Linked DNA regions of Homo sapiens. The protein of the gene in region 2 purifies or fractionates together with the protein of the main gene of each other region. This does not show direct contact. Each region holds a gene or a part of one and is shown on either strand. Other genes may lie near its edges.

What was found.
Region 1: the proteins of RTN1 (region 2) and SERPINE2 purify together in Homo sapiens (affinity purification with mass spectrometry; 2 studies listed by BioGRID and IntAct, with this or other methods). This does not show direct contact.
Region 3: the proteins of RTN1 (region 2) and RTN4 purify together in Homo sapiens (affinity purification with mass spectrometry; 4 studies listed by BioGRID and IntAct, with this or other methods). This does not show direct contact.
Region 4: the proteins of RTN1 (region 2) and TMEM120B purify together in Homo sapiens (affinity purification with mass spectrometry; 2 studies listed by BioGRID and IntAct, with this or other methods). This does not show direct contact.
Region 5: the proteins of RTN1 (region 2) and IFITM3 purify together in Homo sapiens (affinity purification with mass spectrometry; 2 studies listed by BioGRID and IntAct, with this or other methods). This does not show direct contact.
Region 6: the proteins of RTN1 (region 2) and PLSCR1 purify together in Homo sapiens (affinity purification with mass spectrometry; 2 studies listed by BioGRID and IntAct, with this or other methods). This does not show direct contact.
Region 7: the proteins of RTN1 (region 2) and FAM241A purify together in Homo sapiens (co-immunoprecipitation; 3 studies listed by BioGRID and IntAct, with this or other methods). This does not show direct contact.

Annotation. Positions count from the first base shown.
Region 1 is NC_000002.12:224,032,787-224,036,286, forward strand, and holds part of SERPINE2 (glia-derived nexin isoform b precursor), read right to left. Parts: intron 1-3,500. UniProt on the Homo sapiens protein: Serine protease inhibitor with activity toward thrombin, trypsin, and urokinase. Promotes neurite extension by inhibiting thrombin. Binds heparin.
Region 2 is NC_000014.9:59,860,777-59,864,276, reverse strand, and holds part of RTN1 (reticulon-1), read left to right. Parts: intron 1-3,500. UniProt on the Homo sapiens protein: Inhibits amyloid precursor protein processing, probably by blocking BACE1 activity.
Region 3 is NC_000002.12:55,026,452-55,029,951, forward strand, and holds part of RTN4 (reticulon-4), read right to left. Parts: intron 1,770-3,500; coding exon 1,713-1,769; intron 1,035-1,712; coding exon 1-1,034. UniProt on the Homo sapiens protein: Required to induce the formation and stabilization of endoplasmic reticulum (ER) tubules. They regulate membrane morphogenesis in the ER by promoting tubular ER production.
Region 4 is NC_000012.12:121,715,752-121,719,251, reverse strand, and holds part of TMEM120B (transmembrane protein 120B), read right to left. Parts: intron 1-3,500. UniProt on the Homo sapiens protein: Necessary for efficient adipogenesis. Does not show ion channel activity.
Region 5 is NC_000011.10:319,176-322,119, forward strand, and holds IFITM3 (interferon-induced transmembrane protein 3), read right to left. Parts: upstream 1,686-2,944; 5' UTR 1,639-1,685; coding exon 1,390-1,638; intron 816-1,389; coding exon 663-815; 3' UTR 501-662; downstream 1-500.
Region 6 is NC_000003.12:146,531,108-146,534,607, forward strand, and holds part of PLSCR1 (phospholipid scramblase 1), read right to left. Parts: intron 2,444-3,500; coding exon 2,363-2,443; intron 1-2,362. UniProt on the Homo sapiens protein: Catalyzes calcium-induced ATP-independent rapid bidirectional and non-specific movement of phospholipids (lipid scrambling or lipid flip-flop) between the inner and outer leaflet of the plasma membrane resulting in collapse of the phospholipid asymmetry which leads to phosphatidylserine externalization on the cell surface.
Region 7 is NC_000004.12:112,193,105-112,195,756, reverse strand, and holds the end of FAM241A (uncharacterized protein FAM241A), read right to left. Parts: 3' UTR 501-2,652; downstream 1-500.

The DNA.
Region 1 (3,500 bases), on a different chromosome or scaffold from region 2:
TAGGACATGTTTGCCAAAACATACGAGTGGAATTACAAATAGAGGATTGCTTGGGCTCAGTGGCCATCCTCATGCACAGAAAGAATCCCAGAAGGGATGCCGACTTCCCTGGACTGGGCTTACATCCAGACCTAGAAATCTAACAGCAGAATAAAGGCAAGACTCACTGACTGTAGAAATAGACTTGGCCTGTTGGATGGGAGGTGGTATTTCTCAAAAGAGAAATAAAATCATACTAATCTCTCAGTATTCTTAAATTGGGAACTTGCAGACAAGAGATAACCTAAAGATGTAGTTTATTGCATTTGACTCCATTCTGTATCTAAGGGTATTTTTTAAAAACCCAACATTGGTTTTCAGATTAGGCGTGCAATCTACTCATGAGGAAAGATGGTTTGCAAAGAGAAGATGGGCACATTTATGTGTGGAGAACAGGTTGACAAGATTCAAGTATATGGGACCTAATTTATTTAAAATTTTTATAAATGCTCTAAGTGGGAATACAAACTAAATCTTCATGTTGGCCCATGATGCTGTTTCTGAATATAATGCTGAATGATTTTATAGGCTTAAAAAAGTGAGAGACAAGAACTTTAAGGTGTATGAGCACAGGATAATGCATTTACGAAAAAATTTTATCTAGACTTAACACTTATGAGAAAGCCACATCAAAAGGAAACTGAGCCAAGAATTTATAGGTTTTAAAAATAAGACACCTTTTAGATCATTTATTTCAATATACCCATTATACAGACAAGGAAACTGAGTTCTAGATGGTAACCTACACGCTCTATTGGTGGTGCAGCCCATACCCTCTCCCAGCCTGCTCTTTCCACCAAATGTGACTGACGATACCAGCCAAAAAAGTTCCATGGCAAAAAAAAAAAAAAAGTCACCAAGAGGTCATATATCACCATCACCAAAGTTAATAGAAATAAACCAAAATGCATTCTCCTACCCTGTAAAACCACGAAATGCAGAGTGCAGCCCAGCCAACAGACCTCAAGGAGGGCAGAACCATGCCAAAGGGAGGTTCAGATGAGGATAACTGAAGTGAACACAGGCACACAAGTGCTTCTGTATTAGACTTCCGCTTTTCTCTAAGTAATGTTTTATCTCAAAAGACAAGGTTAATCAAAAATTTAAAATGTCTGAGGATATATATTAAATTTGCTAGTACCAAAATGAGGGCTGGAGGTCTGGCAGAGAGAGCTCCCCTTTGAGTCTGGAATACAAACACTCTTCCATAAAGCATGCAGTAAACTTACAAAAAATATGAATATGGTTTAGTTCAGACATCTGTTAATTGCCTTTGGGCCACACACCACCGCTGGTGCAAATAAAACTAAAACACAGGCACGTCTTTCTGGAGCTTAGAGTCTACTGGATAGGGCATGTTGCTACAACACAAAAAACTGCCATCATTGAGGTAGGCACGGGGAGGGGTGACGTGTGTGTACACTGCACATGTGCCACAGAGGGCTGGGGTGGTGACTGCCAGCAAGGCCTTTTTGAGCCTGAGTCTTGAAAAAGGAGAAATCAGCCAGACAATGAACACAGGAGGAGAAAGGGAATTCCAGGCAGAGGTACAGAAGGAGCAAAGGCAGAAAAGCACTGGGCGGTACCAGTGCAGTTTACGGGAGGTTCAGTTTTGCAAGAAAAGAATGTTTCAGGCAGGGGACAAGGCAAGGAGATGGGAAGGGAGTGAAGAAAGCTTTGACTCTGTTGGGTCATTACAAATGGCCAGCAGCCTGGTGAGCCCATGGAGCACTGTGGAAAGTTCCCTGGCTGCATGCTGACAGGAACTGAGTTCTGGGTCAAGACTCTGCCCTAAGGTGTCTAAATGACCTCAGGAACACACTGTATGACTCTGGATACCACATGTAAAACAAGGTTCCCCATGTTCCAAGGGTGGGGGACTCCCTGGGATGGCCTATGCCTCCATATTTACAGACTCCCCACTGCTGTTTGGGATATAGAATCGACCCTGCCCTATCTCCACCCAGGGGGGCTGCGAGGAAGTGGGGCAGTAGTCAGGCTTGTAGAAATGCTTTGTAAACAGCAGGACTGTCATCAACACTAGAACTCTGTATTAACTACCCTACAGAAGCTCAAAAGCATCTTCAGAAACTCGGGTACAACACTGTATAAAGATAGCGGAGAGCTCATCTTTCAATCTTGAGATACCAAACTTGTGATATGACATGGCCACTCCTTTAGAGTCAGGGATTTAAGCCCAGATCAAGAGGGAGCCATTGAATTTTATTAGGAGGGACCCAAGAAGACTTGGATTTGGGGCAGCAGGAGGAAAGTCACACCAGCAATAACATGGAAGAGAGTTAGAAGGGATGCAACATGAGGTGCACGACACTGTGCAGTAAGCACTAGGCATTCCCAGGCTGTCGATGATCGTCTCAGCCTAGGGTCTCTAGCTCTGAAGCCCATGGGAGCCAGAACGCCACTATAAGCAAGGGTCACAGGTCTGGGGGAACCAGAAAGCAACCTACCTCCAGTGTATTCAGGCACTGGAAACCCAGCAGCAGCTGAGGTTTGCCACATGGGAATGTAAGCTTCCTATTCCAGGTTTTTTTTGTTTTGTTTTTGTTTTTGTTTTGAGACAGAGTCTCACTCTTTCACCCAGGCTCGAGAACAGTGGCGCCATCTCAGCTCACTGCAACCTCTGCCTCCCGGGTTCAAGCGATTCTCCTGCCTCAGCCTCCCGAGTAGCTGGGATTATAGGCGCAGCTAATTTTTGTATTTTTAGTAGAGACGCGGTTTTACCATGTTGATCAGGCTGGTCTTGAACTCCTGACCTCAAGTGATCCGCCTGGTTCAGCCTCCCACAGTGCTGGGATTACAGGTATGAGCCACCACGCACTGCCTCATCCAGGTCTTCTGGCTTTTAGGAGAAGCTATACATCCAAGTGGCATCTCCAGATTTCTAAATATTAACTCAAGTTGTATATACTTTGTTCAGGCCAACAACACTGCTGCCTACTGCTAGAAGTGGCACACCGGCCACCATTTTGCCACTTTTGGGCTCTAAAGCAAGGCAAGGCCAGCGTGACTAGAGCGGACCTTTGTGGAATTTCACAGCATGAAGAAGCAACAGGATCTGGTGACAGCCTGCATGTGGGCAGTGCGGGAGCCTGGCATCACCGTGAGACCCCTGCTCCAACATCTCCATGAACGGTGGAACCACTGCCAAAAAAAAACGGACAAATCTTCGCTAACAATGAAGCGGATATGGGGTGGGTGGTGAAAACTAAAATCAATTTTGGATTTATTTTGGGGTGTTTTTTTGGCCTAAAGGGCACGGGTAAGCGCACCAGACTGCAGGTAACTGATTGGAACACAGGAGCATGCTCAAGCTAGCTTAACATGCCAATCTGGGACTCGCTTCATATTGGTGAGAGTCGAAGCTGTGGGAACATGGTTCACCCAAATACACAGAGCACAAAAGGGATGACAGCGAACCCTGGGTAACCCCAAGAGGTAGC
Region 2 (3,500 bases):
ACAGGAAGAGCAGTGAGGTGGAGTAAGCAAGGGGAGAATGATAGGGGATGAGCAAAGGGTCAGCGGTAGAGAGGAGTGGATAGATTAGGTCCTATAGGCCCTTGTAACAGCTTTAAATATTACTCTGAGTGTGATGAGAGCCACAGGAATGGGAGAGGTGTTAAATAGAGAAGGAACATATTTAGAGTTCAGTTTTAAGTTTAATGACTCACTCTAGTCACTGCGTTGAGAATCTAACATGGGGGTGGTGGTGGTTGGTGTGGAGCAAGAGTGACCTACTAGTAGGCCATTGCAATAATCTGAGAAAGAAATCATGGTGGCTTGCACCAGAGTAACAGCATTGGAAGAGGTGAAAAGTGGTTGGATTCTAGATATATTCTGAATGTATGTAATGTGTTAGAAAGAACACAAGGGACATGCCATGATTTTTGGCCTGAGTAAACACAAGAATGAAGTTGTTATTAGCTGGGGTTGGGAAGACTTTAGGAAGAGCAAGTTTTAGGGAAAAAACAGGAGTTTGGTTTTACACATGTTAATTTTTGAATGTCTGTTTGGTGTCCAAGTGGAGATGTCAAGTAAGCAGTGTAGAGTGGGGCTGGGGAGTGATCTGATCTGCTTATATACATTGGGAGTTGTTGGTGTAGAGATGAGATCACCAAGGGAGTGAGTGTTGACAGTGATGAGGTCAAGGAGTCCTGGGTCACTCAAATATACAGAGGTCTTTCAAAGAAAACTGAGTAAAAGTGGGCGACGAAGTAGGAAAACTGAAAGAGACTCCAGAAGAAAAGATAAATATATGTCAAGAGGAATAGAATGATTGATTCCGTCAAATGCTGCTTGTGGTTAAGATAGAGACTGAGAGCCAGCCACTGGATTTGACAATGAGGAAGTCATTCAAAGTGCCGGGAAAAACATCTCGGTTGAAATGGTTTTAGAGCAAATGAGAGGGGAGAAAATAAGAGATGGTATTTGTAGACTTGACTCTTTGGGGGAGTTTTGTTATAAAGGAAACTGAATAAGAGGTAACTGTATGGAGAGTGAGATGAAAAGAAGGGAAAGTATTTTTTTTTTGCTATGGAGAATATTAAGGCATATTTGCAAGATGATGTAAATGATGCAGTAGTCAGGGAAAGATTGGTGTTGCGGGAGGTGGGGGCATTTCCTGAAACTGTGTCTCTGAATGAGTAAGCAGGGATGGATCCAGCACACAGACAAGGGCTGATATTGGATAAAGGTGAGGACAGTTCATGGCTATAATGGAGGAAAGACAGAGGAGAGGGCACACCTGCAGGGAGTGGTTGGAGATGGGGCTGAGAACAGGTGGAAGTTTTCCATTAACTGCTTCTATTTTATCAATGAAATAGGAAGCAGGGTCAACAGAGTGAAGGCAGGAGTGGAATTGTTGAAAGTTTGAGAAGAGGGGAGAAGGTATAAAATTGTCGTTTGGGAAAATGAGAGAGTGAAAGGACTAGGGCAAACTGAGGGAACACTGAGTAGCCCTTGGGGCTCACTTAGAGCTTAAAGTGAGACCAATCACTGTATATGTTATCTTGTTTTTGGTTTAGAGTGCAGGGTTAGTTGGATTGATTTTTGTTTTCCAGTGATCCCAGTGGGAACAGATGGGAAATGGATTTGAGGATATATGCAAGGCAGTATATAGATGCTTGGTCTTGGAATCTGCTGAGGAGGAATGAAGCATAGTAAAAAGATGACATAAGCAGTGGATTGTATATGCTGGCAGGGTTGCTAGAGTAATGGTACTAGAGTAAGGGAGATGAAAGGATAAGAGATGATGATTTGGTAGCTGGGGTGTTTGAGGTAGATAGTAGGAGGGGTACTATTACTGAGAAGCAGTGGAAAACTGAGATGGAGTGGATGACAAGGTCATTGGAGGAGTCCAGAAGAAAGGTGAAAATAGGAGTGAAACAGTCACCTACATGATTACTGACATCACAATGAACCATGACAGATCCTGGGAATTACAGTAAACCAGACGCTAATGGATATCTTTAGGAAGGGACATAATGGCCTAGGATTCTGCCTAGGGGCTTTTAGGGGGAAGGAAGAACAGTGGCCTGTAACATTATAAATGTAAAATGTTGACTATAAGTTCTGAAAATTCTATTTAATATGTATAGAACGTAGGAGATGCAACTTAAAATAGTTCATGGTGGGGGTTGGGAATTTTGTAATTAGCTAAATATGAGCTAGTGGTATGGTGAAATTACTAAAATATCTTATGTAATTTCAGATAGTATTAATAGAAAGTCTCAGGTGCACATTATACGAGGTAATAGCTCCCCTAGATTCTGTTCTAGGCAGGCCAAATTTGGATTCTCATACTAAAGGGTAGGTGCCATGTTTTGAGAGACATTGACGAGCTATAATACGGTGAGAGCAGGGCAATTGGGAGGCTTTTGGAAAACATGCCATTTGAGAGATAGTTAAAGAAATTAAGAATTTTTATCCAAAAGAAAAGAATGAAGATCTGAATGTTAAATACTAGAAGAACTTTCATGAAGCAAAGGAAGAAGACTTGACCCAGCTGATTTCACAGAGCAAAATTAGGACTAGTGATGTGGAGAAGTAGATTTCTTCTGAATGAAAGAAAATGTTCTAATAATTAGAACTGATCAGAAAAGACAGATTCTCTCCCAGTTAGTGATGTTCAAGCAAAAGCCAGGTTGCCATTTTAATGTGGGGAAAGCAGAAAGGAAGTCATTAGTTACACTAAGATGTTTATATCTTCCTAAAAGACAACAGTGCCCCTAACTTGACATTGTTATTGTTACATTATTACTTGTATTAGTCCATTTTCACACTGCTGATTAAGAGATACCCGAGACTGGGCAATTTACAAAGAAAAAGGTTTAATCAACTTACAGTTCCATATGGTTGGAGAGGCCTCACAATCATGGCAGAAGGCAAGGAGGAGCGAGTCATGTCTTACATGGATGGCAGCAGGCAAAGAGAGAGATTGGGCAGGGAAAATCCCCCTTATAATACCATCAGATCTTGTGAGACTTATTCACTATCATGAGAACAGCATGGAAAAGACCTGCCCCATGATTCAATTACCTCCCGCTGGGTTCCTCACATAACACGTGGGAATTCAAGATGAAATTTGGGTGGGGACACAGCCAAACCATATCATTCTGCCCCTGGCCCCTCCCAAATCTCATGTCCTTACATTTCAAAACCAATCATGCCTTCCCAACAGTCCCTCAAAGTCTTAACTCGTTGCAGTATTAACTCAAAATTTTATAGTCCAGTGTCTCATCTGAGACAAGGAAGTCTCTTCTGCCTATAAGCCTGTAAAATCAAAAGCAACTTAGTTACTTCCTAGATACAGTGGGGGTACAGGCATTGGGTAAATATAGCCATTCTAAATGGGAGAAATTGGCCAAAACAAAGGGGCTACAGTCCCCATGCATGTCTGAAATCCAGCAGGGCAGTCAAATCTTAAAGCTTCAAAATGATCTCCTTTGACTCCGTGTCTC
Region 3 (3,500 bases), on a different chromosome or scaffold from region 2:
GCCTTCAGGCATGTTTGCCACGACTTCCTCAGTCACCTTTGTTAAATTATCTGTTGTGACATAATCTGTCTCAGAATCCTGTGCTGCTACAAGAAAAGGGTTTGATGTTTTGGTGCTAGTATTCTTCTCTGTTACTATTTGGGCCTTCTTTTCTTCTATTTTTTTTTCATCGGTCTTATTTTCTGAAGTAGGATCTCCTAACAAAGGAAAAATGTTTGTTGCAATGCTCTCAGTTGCTGCTGGGTTAAAGGGAGCACATGTGATATATGCTCCTGAACGATCCTTTATACCTTCTGGCGTACTGGGGAAAGAAGTATCATCATTACTACTCTCACTATCTTTTTCGTGATTAGTTTGCTCAAGGCTATCTGCAAAACATTTTTTATCCACTTTACTTTCCAAGTTGCTCTCGATTTTACCTCCAGCAGCCAACATATCACTATCTTCCTTACTATCTTTCACTTCCCATACTCGCTCAAATGGTTTGAAGTCTGCATATTCCTCCCTCATAGGAGCTTCCACTGCAACTCTCTTTTCATTAAAACTGTCTTTTGCTTTTTCTGAAGACACAACTTCATCCTCTTTAACCAATTTAGTAAGAGCTGTAGGTAACTCTTGTTGATTATGAAGGATGTTATTACTAACTAACTTCTCTTCTTCATCTTTATTTTTCACGATTATTTCTTCCCTAGGATTTGCTACTATTACGGCAGATTCTGCTTTTGGAGAGACACTGAACGATGATCCCATTTCTGAGTATTCTAATTCTGAAAACTCTGTTAAATCTCTATCTATGAGTAGAGTTTTTGCCTTCTCTGAGACCTCTTTAGAAGCTTCACTGACATTTTCTTGAAGTGTTCCTTCAGTGGGTAATACTGTTGACAAATTACCAAGGTATTCATGTTCTTTGAAAGAAGCGGCTGAGAGAGGAGACAGAGAAGGAAGAGAAGCAGCAGTTTCAAGCAGGACAGATGGGAAATCCTCTTGACCAGCCGAAATAGTGTTACCTGGCTGCTCCTTCAAGTCCATATTTTCTGTGACCATGGACAGAAAGGAAAGTTAGAGAATGCCAGTGTTCTCAGAGTTAATGCAAGTTTTATGACAGATCCAAAATAGTGTTAGTAAAGACTTACTGTTTACTAAAATGAAATGTTAATAGCAATTAATAAGTAACAATAGAGTAGACTTCAATCATTACTGAAAATATTAAGCTATTGTAAATATAACATATGCATGGCTACAGAGGCAATTACATGCTGTGCAAAGACAAATCAAGTCTGAGTAAACCTCAAATGTTATCAACTAAGATACTAATAGCTAGTTTTAGAGAAGAGAAGAATATCTGTGAAAAGAGTTTCGGTGACAGCATAGGAAAGAAGGGGCACTGGGTAAATGCCATAGACTGGTATTTATTTACAGGAAAGCCTTTCTGGCTATACTCAAACTGTATTTGGAGAAAGGGAATGGTAAATATGTAAATGTAATTCAAGGGTCCAAGAATTCCTTATGTACTTCCAAGTATTCATCAGATTTTGCTCATTTTTCCCTTGGGCATACCATATAAAATGCACATTTCAACTTTTCCAGTAGACAAAACATTCTCGGAACCATGCTAATTTTTAGTAAACCCAAACTACTCTGCATAGTGTTAACACACTAAAGAGTTAAAGTTAGAATACAGAGAGGATAAAAGGCTGGCAGAAAGAACTTGCCTGCAGAGGAGCGTATCACAGGCTCAGATGCAGCAGGAAGAGCAAAAAGGGTCTCATCTGAAAAACAAATAGAATATAACCTCAGCAGAAATAAAGACAGATTGAAAGGAGACTAAAGATAAGAGGAGCAAGCCAGGGTTCAGTTTGTAATAAGTTAACAAAAAACTTTACAGAGAAAGGGCCAAGATCAAAAGGAAGTCAGAAAAAGTAGTACCATTAATTCAGGTTAAATCATCATATGTATTATAAAGCTAATTAAATGTTATCCATAGAACCTATCATTTTTCAAGAGGCAATACAACCTGTTTATGTTAAAGAAACTTATGAATCAAAGTGGCTTTAAAATACTGTTCTACTTAACATATCACATCCCAAGCTTTCACTCAGGTTTTCACATAGGTAAATTGTCTTGTTCTATTCAGGCCAAAAACAAAAAGCTGAATTTGAATACAATTAACAACTACAAATGTTTAATCTTTTGTTATTGGCATATATTCAATTTAAAGAAACACTTTTAAAGAATTATGCATTTTCTCTTACATTCTAAGTTGTTACAGTCATTGTACATTGCTCTTTGAAGACATTAGTCCTGTGCCAATGTCCAAATGCCAGAGTCCAAAATACAAAAAAAAAAAAAATTAACTGCCTTTAGGATGACACCATTATTGGTTTTGCTTAAAATTAACCTAAGTGAGGGCTACTTGTTATTTGTATACACAACTAGTAAGTGAGAGACTAAGGCAATTCAATTCCAGAGCCCATTTCCTTAATCACTGTATGTTACAGAACTGAATGCTTATATTTCCTACAAAACTCATGTTAAAGCCCCAACCCCTAAAGTGATAGTATCTGAAGATGGGGACTTTGGGAGGTGATTAGGGTTAAATGCAGTCAGGGTGGGGCCCTGGGCCAAGGGGATTAATGCCCTTACAAGAAGAGACACCAGAGAGCTTGCTGTCATGCTCCCTGTCTCCCCAGGCACACACAAGAGGTCATGTGTGCACACAGTGAGATGGTGGTCACCTATAAGCCAGGAGAAGAGGCCTCAAAAAGAAATCTACCTTGCCAGCACCTTGATCTTAGACTTACCAGCCTCCAGAATTGTGAGAAGTAAATTTCTGTTCAGCCACCCAGCCTATGGTATTTTGTTACGGCAGCCCAAGCTAACTAATACACTCTATATTGGTAATATTAACTTTGTACAATGTCATCTTGTACCTGCAGTTGGGAGATCCTAAGCTAAAGATCTTCCATGGTTTACACTAGAGAAAGGCCTCTACCATCAGACAATTTGAAACAGCCTGAGAGATGACTGGAAGGTGATATTCCTTTAACAGAGAGAACCTAATAAATTTAGACAATTTCATCTGGATGGACAAGCTAGACAAGGCTGATCAAAACAGATAAAAATCCAAGAAATGTAGCTAACATGAATACGGACTTGTCTTCCAAGCATATTACCCTTAATGAATTAGGAGAGCTAACTTCACAAGGTCTTATATATTTTAGATAAATATATACTGGGCATGAAGTCATACTTAAAGGATTCCTAGATGAGGGTGATGACGGGAAATTTATGATGTGTGTTTAAAAGGGTTTCCTCCAACCTAGAGCACTAGGTAGGATGGGCTATCCAGTCAAAGGGGTAACATAATGGCTTATAAGATTTTTAAATAAAGTGCATATATATGTGTACACATATTTAAAAGATTACTTGCTATGTGATCTTAAATTACAGTTTCTCATTTGTAAAATGAAGGAAAGTTCCCTTCAGCTAAAATAATGAAT
Region 4 (3,500 bases), on a different chromosome or scaffold from region 2:
TTTTTTTTAAACTACCAGCTTTTTGATTTTCCTTCATGGGACCATCCCTCCCCAACTCGTTTCATGTAGTGTGGTGGCACTGATCCCACTTTTAGGCTTCAGGAGCAGATATGTGACCGTGACCTGGCCAATCAGTGCCACAGTGACTGGTTAAGTAAGGCATAGTCACATGACCCAAGCTGGGCCAATGAGAGTCAGCCCTGGGACGCTTGCTGAAACCACAGGGGGAAAGGATGCTCTGTTTCTGCCAGAGCTGCTAAGCTGACAGATGTCAGCTGAGGGCCACCTGGCCATCTTTGCCACAACATGGGAGGGACTGCCTGAGAATAATGCTGACACAGAGGAGAGAGAGAGAGACATCCACACACAGACACAGACATCACCTGAGCTCCTGGATCCAGCCTTGCCTGAAGCCATTTGCCACTAGACTTGACTCAATAAACCCTCTTTTGGCTTAAAACCAGTCAGACTGGGTTTTTTTCATTTGCAACTAAGAGTCCTGATAGTGCATTGTGTGAAAGCACTATATAAATGAAAAGGGACCCAGCAAGTTCAAAACTTTTCTTCTAGAGCTAAGAGTCTCAGGATACTTTTGGAGCCCACGGTATTAGTATCTGAGTTATACAGCAGGCATGGGTTCGAATTCTGGCTCCATGACTTTCAAGTTACTCAGCATCTCTTAGCTTCAATCTCCTCATCTAAAAAACAGGGTTGTCATTCATTCATTCACTCATTCATTTATTTTTGAGACAGGATCTCACTCTGTCACCCAGGCTGGAGTACCCTGGCACGATCTTGGCTCACTGCAACCTCCGCCTTCTGGGTTCAAGCGATTCTTCAGCCTCAGCCTCCCAAGTAGCTGGGATTACAGGAGCGAGCGACCAATGCCCAGCTAAGGTTTTTTTTTGTTTTTTGTTTGTTTGTTTGTTTTATAGTGATGGGGTTTCACCATGTTGCCCAGGCTGGTCTTGAACACCTAAGCTCAAAGTGCTCTGCCCTCCTTAGCCTCCCAAAGTGCTGGGATTACAGGCATGGGCCACTGCGCCAGGCCATGGGTTGATATTTAGATTAAATGGGATAATCTGTGTTTCACGCAGTTAGCTATTATTGTTATTGTTGTTGTTATGATTATTATTATTGTCAGCCTTTGTTTTTAGATAAAGAAACTCAACCTGAGAGAGGTGGCTCACCAAATTCAGATACTAGACAATGGCAAAGCTAGGACCTGAACTCAAGAATACTGATTCCCTGTGCAGTGTCTTTTTCTGCACAATCTGCTACTAAAGAAAGATGCCCGGCTGGGTGCGGTAGCTCACGCTTGTAATCCCAGCACTTTGGGAGGCTGAGGCAGGCGGATCACAAGGTCAGGAATTCGAGACCAGCCTGGCCAACATAGTGAAACCCTGTCTCTACTAAAAATACAAAAATTAGCCAGGAGTGGTGGCACACATCTGTAATCCCAGCTACTCGGGAGGCTGAGGCAGGAGAATCGCTTGAACCTGGAAGGCGGAGGTTGTGGTGAGCTGAGATCGAGCCACTGCACTCCAGCCTGGGCAACAGAGCGAGACTCCGTCTCAAATAAAAAAGAAAGAAAGACGCCCCACAAGCCAAGATAGAAGAGAAACAAAAGCTAACAGGAGTACTCAGGGCACAGATGAGCCTAGGGCAGTAGTTAAGAGCACAGACACTGGTGTTCAACAGCCTGGGTTCGAATCCTGGCTCCTGCACTGACAGGCCATGTGACCTTGGATAAGTGACTTAACCTCTGTAAAACAGAGATTCTAGGATCAATTTCATAGGGTTATTAATGAAATAATGCTGATCTTCTTGCTTCGAGCCTGTCTCCCTGATGTCTATTCTATACACAGCAGCCAGACGGATGTACATGTCATTAGCAGTAAAAGCCAAAATCTTTACCATGGCCTTCAAGGCCCTTGCATCACTGTGAGGTCAGACTTAGGGAAAAGCTGCTACGGGCCACCTTCTTCCTTGGCTGGGAGGAACGAGATCAGGTTTCCAGTGATGCAAGGCAGGAAATGCTCATTAAATTACTTGCCCTTGTGTCTGTAAGTGACCTTCTGCGGTCACGCCACAGGCCAGGAGACCAGGAGCACACTGGTCTCAGACTAGCACTCAACTCACCAGCATGCCTGAAACCCCAGCCACCCAAAAACTAAGTCCTCATGGAGACTCAACTGTGCCCCAGGGTTCAGGAAGGCCCTGACACATGCAAATCACAGTCCAAAGAAAACTGATCCTTTCCTCTCCTCAGTCCCAGAGATTACATTGGGTTTTCTTGGGGTGGGGAGGAGGGAAATTCCAAAGATCTTTCAAATCTTCTGGGGTCTGAGAATTAGGTTTGCTCTTTCTTTCCTTCATTCAAAAAAGGAAAGCCAGGTGCAGTGGCTCACGCCTGTAATCCCAGCACTTTGGGAGGCCAAGGCAGATGGATCACGAGGTCAGGAGTTCTAGACCAGACTGGCCAAGATGGTGAAACCCTGTCTCTGCTAAAAATATAAAAATTAGCCGGGCACGGTGGCGGGTGCCTGTAATCCCAGCTACTCAGGAGGCTGAGGCAGGAGAATAGCTTTAACCCGGGAGGCAAAGGTTGCAGTGAGCCAAGATTGTGCCACTGTACTCTAGTTTGGGCGACAGAGCAAGACTGTGTCTCAAAAAAAAAAAAAAAGAAAGAAAAAAAAAGAGAAAAAGAGGTAAGACACAGAGACATTACACATTGTTACACATCACCCCAGAATCAATGAGATACAAATATGAAACCCTCAACCCGGATTCTAAGGAAGATGTAGGAAAATTAAAATAGACCAGGATTTTCTAGTAGAAAAAAAATCCTTCCTATTGTTAAGCTTTCTAGTTCAGTGTGCCCACCTACCTACCTGCTGTTACCTGCTTGTTCCCCAACAAATCTCTTTTTTTTTTTTTTTGAGAGAGAGGGTCTAACTCTGTCACCCAGGCTAGAGTACAGTGGTGCAATCATGGCTCACTGCAGCCTTGACCTCTGGGGCTCAAACAGCCCTCCTACTCCAGCCTCCCTAGTAGCTGGGACCACAACCATGCACCACCACACCCAGCAATTTTTTTTTTTTACTGTTTGTAGAGACAGGGGTTTCCCTATGTTTCCCAGGCTGGTCTCAAACTGCTGGGCAATCCTGCTGGGAGCGGTCCTCCCAACTTGTCCTCCCAAAGTGCTGAGATTACAGGTATGAGCCAATGCACCGAGCTCCCAACAAATATCTCGTATCCGAAACTGCCCAGCACATACGCAATGGACATCCTACTTACCATATACAGAGTCCCAGAGCCTTGCATCTTGAGAGTTCAGAGCTCTCACATCTAACATGAAGGGGAACGTGAGAAGGCAGAGAGGGGCCTACCAATATTTAGAGAACTAAATTATGGCCCCAACTTTACCACTAACTAGCTGTGTGGCCCCCGTCCAGGGAATCAGCATGCCCAAGCTTCAGTTTCCTCATCTGTGAATT
Region 5 (2,944 bases), on a different chromosome or scaffold from region 2:
ATCTGCAGGACTGGCTGCTCCAGACAGCTCGGAGGCAGGCAGCGCGGTGCCCCCTCCACCCCGAGGAACTAAAGCCAGGTCCCCAGCACCACAGAGCAGGGCCTGGGAGCAGCTGGGGAGCCGGTGCCACCTTGCCCCTCCCTGGCCCTGCTGGGGGCTTAACCCTTCCCTCTGTCCTGAGCCGACAGCCTGGATTGCCGACAGGCCGCGAGCGTGGCCTTGGGCCCAGGGTGTCCCGGACTCAGCACTGACGTTCCCGGAAAGAGCCCACGTTGAGTAGGAGCTGAGACCTGCAGGACACAGGAACTCCTCCCAGGGTCCTGGATCCAGCTGCTGCTCACGGCAGGAGGCCCGAAACCAGAAGGCCTGAGCACTTGCCCGGTCCCCAAGAGATGCACAGAGGCCGGAAGGGGCAGTGCAGGGGCTGACCAACCTGCTCAGTCTCAGAACCACGCTCCGAACCCTCAGCCAGACCCCTCCCCAGGTGAAGTCGCAGCAGCACCAGAAACACGTGCACTTTATTGAATGCCATTGTAGAAAAGCGTGTGAGGATAAAGGGCTGATACAGGACTCGGCTCCGGGGGCAGGGCGAGGAATGGAAGTTGGAGTACGTGGGATACAGGTCATGGGCAGAGCTCCTGGCCTCAGTGATGCCTCCTGATCTATCCATAGGCCTGGAAGATCAGCACTGGGATGACGATGAGCAGAATGGTCATGAGGATGCCCAGAATCAGGGCCCAGATGTTCAGGCACTTGGCGGTGGAGGCATAGGCCTGGGCCCCGGTCACGTCGCCAACCATCTTCCTGTCCCTAGACTGGGGGAGAGGAGATGGTGAGGGGACCAGGATCCCCCAGCTGAGAGCCGCGTGCTATGGCTCCGTCTCCTCATTGGCTCTCCCCGCCCTGAGATCAGGGACCACCTCCTCCCCTTCCTCACCCGGGCTCAGACTCTCCAGGAGCCTCGGGGCTCATCCTCCTTCTGCCTTGACCTCAGCACAGGCTGTTCTCCCCACCATGGGGTGAAGTCACCTGTGAGTTCCCTTCTCACTTTCTGGGAGAGCCTGGGTGCCAGTCTGGAAGGTGAAGGTGTAATTTCTTACTGGGCTATAGGGAGAACTGCTCTGGGCTAGTGGATAGCCGGGGACAGACTCTGAGCCAGCCAGCCAGCCTCCTGGAGCCTCCTCCTAAACCTGCACTGGGCAGATTCCCCAAGCCACACACACACACAGATCACACAGACAAAGCCACTGACGTGGGCACACACGGGACAGAGGTGCACACAAACTCACAGTCACAGGGACACACAAGTCCCCACCCCAGGCAGCATGTGGGCAGGTGGAGCTCCAGGCTCAGCGGCACCCTCTGAGCATTCCCTGGGGCCATACGCACCTTCACGGAGTAGGCGAATGCTATGAAGCCCAGGCAGCAGGGGTTCATGAAGAGGGTGTTGAACAGGGACCAGACGACATGGTCGGGCACGGAGGTCTCGCTGCGGATGTGGATCACGGTGGACGTCGGGGGAGCAGGGTTGTGGGGCGCCCCCAGCACAGCCACCTCGTGCTCCTCCTTGAGCATCTCATAGTTGGGGGGCTGGCCACTGTTGACAGGAGAGAAGAAGGTTTGGACAGTGTGATTCATGGTGTCCAGCGAAGACCAGCGGCGGTCGGGTTACTGGGATGGTTCTCAGTGAGCCCTCCCTTTCCCCAGTAGTTTCGGTTTCTCAACAGTTTCCTTTTCCTGGCATTTGTCAAATCGGGATTTGGCCGGGGCCAGATGAGGGCGGAACAAATTCCTGAGGATCAAATTACTTTAGGAGAGGGAGGAAAGAGGGGCTGAGGGCTAAGAGGGGCTTCCTCTCTAGAGCCCAAGGGAGCACAAGGCTCATCTTGTTAGTGGTGTGGGGTCCTGGAGACTTCCCCTGTGTTGGGGGTCTCCACACCCCAGGCCAGCAGCTGCAGGACCCCACTGTCCCGGTTCAGGGCTCCTGCCAGGCCTGCGCTGACGCCTCCACACTCCAGGCCCCACAACCGTTCCCCCAAAGCCCTCACCTCTGCCGGGCGCCGCGGCTCACGCCTGTAATCCCAGCACTTTGGGAGGCTGAGGTGGGAGGATCATGAGGTCAGGAGATCGAGACCATCCTGGCTGACACGGTGAAACCCCGTCTCCCATAACCCTCACTGTGGTGCCCAGGCAGCTGGATTATCCCATTACCTTCACTATGGTGCCCAGGCAGCTGGATTATCCCATTACCTTCACTATGGTGCCCAGGCAGCTGGATTATCCCATTACCTTCACTATGGTGCCCAGGCAGCTGGATTATCCCATTACCTTCACTATGGTGCCCAGGCAGCTGGATTATCCCATTACCTTCACTATGGTGCCCAGGCAGCTGGATTATCCCATTACCTTCACTATGGTGCCCAGGCAGCTGGATTATCCCATAACCCTCACTGTGGTGCCCAGGCAGCCGGATTATCCCATTACCTTCACTATGGTGCCCAGGCAGCTGGATTATCCCATAACCCTCACTGTGGTGCCCAGGCAGCCGGATTATCCCATTACCTTCAGTGTGGTGCCCAGGCAGCCGGATTATCCCATTACCTTCAGTGTGGTGCCCAGGCAGCTGGATTATCCCATAACCCTCACTGTGGTGCCCAGGCAGCTGGATTATCCCATTACCTTCACTATGGTGCCCAGGCAGCTGGATTATCCCATAACCCTCACTGTGGTGCCCAGGCAGCCGGATTATCCCATTACCTTCAGTGTGGTGCCCAGGCAGCCGGATTATCCCATTACCTTCAGTGTGGTGCCCAGGCAGCTGGATTATCCCATTACCTTCACTATGGTGCCCAGGCAGCTGGATTATCCCATAACCCTCACTGTGGTGCCCAGGCAGCCGGATTATCCCATTACCTTCAGTGTGGTGCCCAGGCAGCCGGATTAT
Region 6 (3,500 bases), on a different chromosome or scaffold from region 2:
AGGGAAGGAGCAGGAACAGCTGCCTTGAGGGGTCACCTTTATGCTGAGATCTGAAGGATGCACAGGAGTTCAGGAGGCCAGAGTCACAGAAAGAACATTTCAGAGCAACGTCCTGGGACAGTAACTAACATAGGCCTTTAAAAATCTGAAAAATAGCCAGTCTAGCTGAATAACAGCAAGCCAGGCTCAAGAGGAAGTTAAAGAGAGAGCATGGAAAAGGCCATCCTGAGTTTAGTGTTAGCCTTTATCCTAAAAGTAATAGGCCACTAATAAAATAGGGGCTCTACACTCTCTGTAATATGAGCAGATTTACATTTTTAAAGATCACTGGGGTCAGCACAGAAACCAGACCATAGGCAGACCAGTGGGGATATGGAGATGTGAGTTAATTTCTTACATTTTTAACATCATCATAATTTTCCCCAGACTCTGAAAGTATGATGGATTACTCCTCAAATCAATGAATTAAGCATAAAGAATTACCTGAAATTTGAATACTAGTATCATTTATGTAAAGACTAATTGATTTAAAATATTTTAAATATGTTAGCAAATACTTGTCATTTATAATTTGCAAGCATTGTGCTCAGTGTTTTACATATACTCTCATTTACTCTACAAAGCAACCTACATTGAAAATATCACCCTTATTTATAGATAGGAACTCTGAGGCTTTGAGGTACTGCAACTTGTTTAAACTACCACATAACTATTAGTACAGAAGGCAGAACCTGGTTTACCAGCACATTTACCTATACGAATTTTTTTTTTAAAGTAGGCAGAACTTGAAGCCTGATACAAACTTCCTATGCCTCAGCTTTCCCACATACATAATGGGGATAACTGACAGTATTTACCTCATAAGAGTATTCTAAGAATTAAAAGTGTTAGTCCACATTAACTCCACATTTAAAACAATGACTAAAGCATGGTAAGATCTCAATTTTAAATTATCCTTACTCTTAGCATCGTTATCTTAAGACTTGTGCTATATGTAATCTTGGACTTGAGAAACAAAATCAAGCTGTAGAGCCATATATATCTATATATATAAACAAACTCTCAAGTCTGATTATATCTGAACTGTATTATTTATGTATATCTACTTTTAATTAGTGATAGGGTGGATTAAATCATTCTCTTAAGTGCCTTGGATGAATATTATAGACTTACTAATGATTTTTCAAACACCAACCCTATAAGAATTTAGAGCAGATGTTCTCAACCCTGGCTTCACCTTAGAATCACTTGGGGTGTTAAAAGATTACTATTCCTTGAGTCCCACCACTGGAAGCTATGATTTAATTTTTCTGGAATAGTGCCTTTGCACTACTATTTTTAAGTGCTTCTGGGTGATGATACTTCAGTGCAGACAAGGTTGCCATGAGCCACCACTTGAGAGTCTGAGCTTATCTAGCTCATATTCTTTCAGTTGCAAACATCTGGATGAGATCCGGGACCCGCAGGGAGGTTTCTTGCTAGGCAATTAAACATGACATTCAGCTCCTAAGCACATTTGTTTACTCAGAGAAGAAAACACAGTGGGTACATCCTTCTATCCAAACCACATTCCCTTTGGTCCTAAATCCTCAGGATGCTCTTTCAAGATGTGGGTAGCCTGTCTGCTTGTAAATCTGGACATGCCATGGACTTTGCTATTTTTAAAGTTCTAGTAGTTTTGATAACTGCATTTGCCTAAATGAAAATCTCTGAATTCTTTCAGGCATTGGTTGAAAAGAAAAAATGTACTCAATTATGTATGTAGTCAAATGACTCAATTACTTTTCTTAGAAATACAGGGTGGAATCAGCATATATATAAAAATAAAGCTTTCATATACATTATAAAATTAAAATGAGAATTATTCCCAGGTAACTGAATTTCTATTACTTTCAGTTTTAAGCAGTCTTACTATTTTGATGTGACTCTCACTGAACACATGCCAAGCTACTACATGACTCAGTTTATCAGAAATAAATTTCCTAAATGTGATTAAATGATCATAATTTTCAGAACAGATGGAGGATCAATAAAATATTTTACTTAACATTTGTATTTTAGGATGTACAGTCTTGTATTTCATTTGCTAAATGTAAACCTAATGTTGTTTTTACTAGCTTTCTTTATACCTTTACTGTCCTCTATAAATAAAAATTACTTCTGTGCAAAATGATAGCCAAATAAAAATAATCAAGAACAACTAGGCTGCCAAAATTTCATTAATATAATTTTAAAAAAAGAACTACTAAAATAAAAACAAATGCACAATTCTCTCTCTCTCTTACTCTCTCTCTCCCACTCTCACTCTCTCTCTCTGTCTCTCAATTAATTTTACTTTTTCTTCTTTCAGCAACTGCTTTACCTTGGAATGCTGTCGGTGGATACTGAGGAGGATACCCAACTGGCAAGTTTGTTTCCGGGTGAGAAGCATTCATCTGTGAGTCTGCAATTCAAGGAGAGGTAAATAGATGTCTGATTAAATAAAATATATATTAGAAAGAAACAATGTATTGTACTTAGATAATTGTAACTTGTATGTTCTTATGCTGTATTGAAATAGGGAAAGTAAAATTTTCACTTAACGTAAGCTGTGCCTGTTCTCAGAGCTAATTTGCAACTAGCAAATTTGTTTCAAACAAATTCTCCTTTAGATAAAATGAGACAGTTAAGTTACTGGGGCTGAATTACCAGTTTTTGAAACATCCCTGATGAATGTTCAGTTCCATGTTTTGTTGATAATAAAACAAAGATAGCTTTAAAATTACATACAGACTACGAAGAAAGAGATAAATGAAATTAATGGGATGTGAAGATGGTAGAATTATGGATGATTTTAAAGATATCTATCATCATTGCTGTAAGTATTATTTTAAATATTTAAAATAATGAATATACTTCAGTATTTATATATGTTATGCTTACTCTGGAACTACACCAATGAAGTTGAACCATATGAAATTCCCCAAATATGACTGTTTTTGACCCACAAAAGCCATGTTTAATTACAATACACTAGCATATTAAACTTTGTTATTTGCTAATAAGGCTTGAGTAAACTTAATATATGCACAAATGGTTCAACCTCCTAAATATTAATATTCATGTCTATCTAGTCATTCGGTTACCTACCGCAGCCAGTCTCTAAATATTTACTGAGCATGTCCTGTGTCACCCTTGAATTAGGCTCTGTGGCTACAATGGCTCTGCTTTCATACAGCTTAAGGTGCAGTAGACACTACACTTATCTCCTTATCTGTTTCCTTATGAATTACTAACTGTAAATTCAAAGTCTTTTGTTTTAGAATCATGGAGACATGGCATCAATATAGAAGAACATATAGGTCAAACTTTCACTGTAACACATTTTTCTGTATGTGTCTCTATTATGAACTTTCAAAGACCACTCAACTTGTGAATCGTGTGGTTTTATCAGGAAGATTGGATTGTTTCCCCCACCCCCTGCCCCGGCCTTTCTCCTTCATAAATAGCTTCATGATGAC
Region 7 (2,652 bases), on a different chromosome or scaffold from region 2:
TCTTATAATACTGGGGGAAACCAATAGCAAAAAAGGTCCATGGTTTTATGATACAAGTTACTGTATTCTATGGTGTTTTGGAAAACTGGCAAAGAAATTTCCAACTAAGTCAATTAAAGATTAAATGATAAACTTTAATTGCTGAAAAGATAACTCAAATTTAATAAACATAAATATGTTTTGGATCGCTAGCAGGCTTCTGCAGAGTTTATTCGATAATTCTAACTTACACAATAGTCAAGCCAACAGAAAGAAGAAAAATACAGCTTGGAGGCAGAGGTTGGTCTTGATCTTGGTTTTCCCACTTCTCCTTTCCTGGGAAGCCATACATGTCATGTCTTGGCATTCTGTTCCAGCAATAGGGATAAGGAAAAAAGATAACCTCTGTTCACCCTCAGATGTTTGTTGTTGCTTTGGTCATTCCAAACTGGATGTGGCAGCCATTAACTGGTAAGTAGAACATGTGATAGGGAGTTGGAAGAGACACTCAGAAGGCAGAGTTGTAAAAGAGTATTATTTATTAGAAAGAATAACAAAGTATATACATGTCATTTAACACATATGTCTGGGCTACTAGGACACTGTAATAGTGGATTTCTTCTGGAGCCTAAAACACCACGCTTCGATACTTGAGAATTTCTGCTCACAAAAAAGTTTAAGAGTTTTTTGTAAAAATTAAAATGTAGGCCGGGTGCAGTGGCTCACGCCTGTAATCCCAGCACTTTGGGAGGCCGAGGCGGGCGGATCATGAGGTCAAGCGATTGAGACCATCCTGGCCAACATGGTGAAACCCCGTCTCTACTAAAAATACAAAAATACAGGCATGCCAGCATGTGCCTGTAATCCCAACCACTCCTGCTGAGACAGGAGAATTGCTTAAACCTGGGAGGCGGAGGTTGCAGTGAGTCGAGATCGTGCCACTGCCCTCCAGCCTGGCAACGGAGCGAGACTTCGCCTCAAAAAACAAAACAAAAAATTAAAAATAAAAATCCTCAATAAAATACTGGCGAACCAAATCCAGCAGCACATCAAAAAGCTTATCCACCATGTTCAAGTGGGCTTCATCCCTGGGATGCAAGGCTGGTTCAATATACGCAAATCAATCAATGTAATCCAGCATATAAACAGAACCAAAGACAAAAACCACATGATTATCTCAATAGATGCAGAAAAGGCCTTTGACAAAATTCAACAACGCTTCATGCTAAAAACTCTCAATAAATCAGGTATTGATGGGACGTATCTCAAAATAATAAGAGCTATCTATGACAAACCCACAGCCAATATCATACTGAATGGGCAAAAACTGGAAGCATTCCCTTTGAAAACTGGCACAAGACAGGGATGCCCTCTCTCACCACTCCTATTCAACATAGTGTTGGAAGTTCTGGCCAGGGCAATTAGGCAGGAGAAGGAAGTAAAAAGTATTCAATTAGGAAAAGAGGAAGTCAAATTGTCCCTGTTTGCAGATGACATGATTGTATATCTAGAAAACCCCATTGTCTCAGCCCAAAATCTCCTTAAGCTGATAAGCAACTTCAGCAAAGTCTCAGGATACAAAATCAATGTACAAAAATCACAAGCATTCTTATACACCAATAACAGACAAACAGAGAGCCAAATCATGAGTGAACTCCCATTCACAATTGCTTCAAAGAGAACAAAATACCTAGGAATCCAACTTACAAGGGACGTGAAGGACCTCTTCAAGGAGAACTACAAACCACTGCTCAATGAAATAAAAGAGGATACAAACAAATGGAAGAACATTCCATGCTCATGGATAGGAAGAATCAATATCGTGAAAATGGCCATACTGCCCAAGGTAATTTATAGATTCAATGCCATCCCCATCAAGCTACCAATGACTTTCTTCACAGAATTGGAAAAAACTACTTTAAAGTTCATATGGAACCAAAAAAGAGCCCGCATCGCCAAGTCAATCCTAAGCCAAAAGAACAAAGCTGGAGGCATCATGCTACCTGACTTCAAACTATACTACAAGGCTACAATAACCAAAACAGCATGGTACTGGTACCAAAACAGAGATATAGATCAATGGAACACAAAAGAGCCCTCAGAAATAACGCCGCATGTCTACAGCTATCTGATCTTTGACAAACCTGAGAAAAACAAGCAATGGGGAAAGGATTCCCTATTGAATAAATGGTGCTGGGAAAACTGGCTAGCCATATGTAGAAAGCTGAAACTGGATCCCTTCCTTACACCTTATACAAAAATTATTTCAAGATGGATTAAAGACTTACATGTCAGACCTAAAACCATAAAAACCCTAGAAGAAAACCTAGGCATTACCATTCAGGACATAGGCATGGGCAAGGACTTCATGTCTAAAACACCAAAAGCAATGGCAACAAAAGACAAAATTGACAAATGGGATCTAATTCAACTCAAGAGCTTCTGCACAGCAAAAGAAACTACCATCAGAGTGAACAGGCAACTTACAAAATGGCAGAAAATTTTCGCAACCTACTCATCTGACAAAGGGCTAATATCCAGAATCTACAATGAACTCAAACAAATTTACAAGAAAAAAACAAACAACCCCATCAAAAAGTGGGCAAAGGACATGAACAGACACTTCTCAAAAGAAGACATTTATGCAGCCAAAAAACACATGAAAAAATGCTC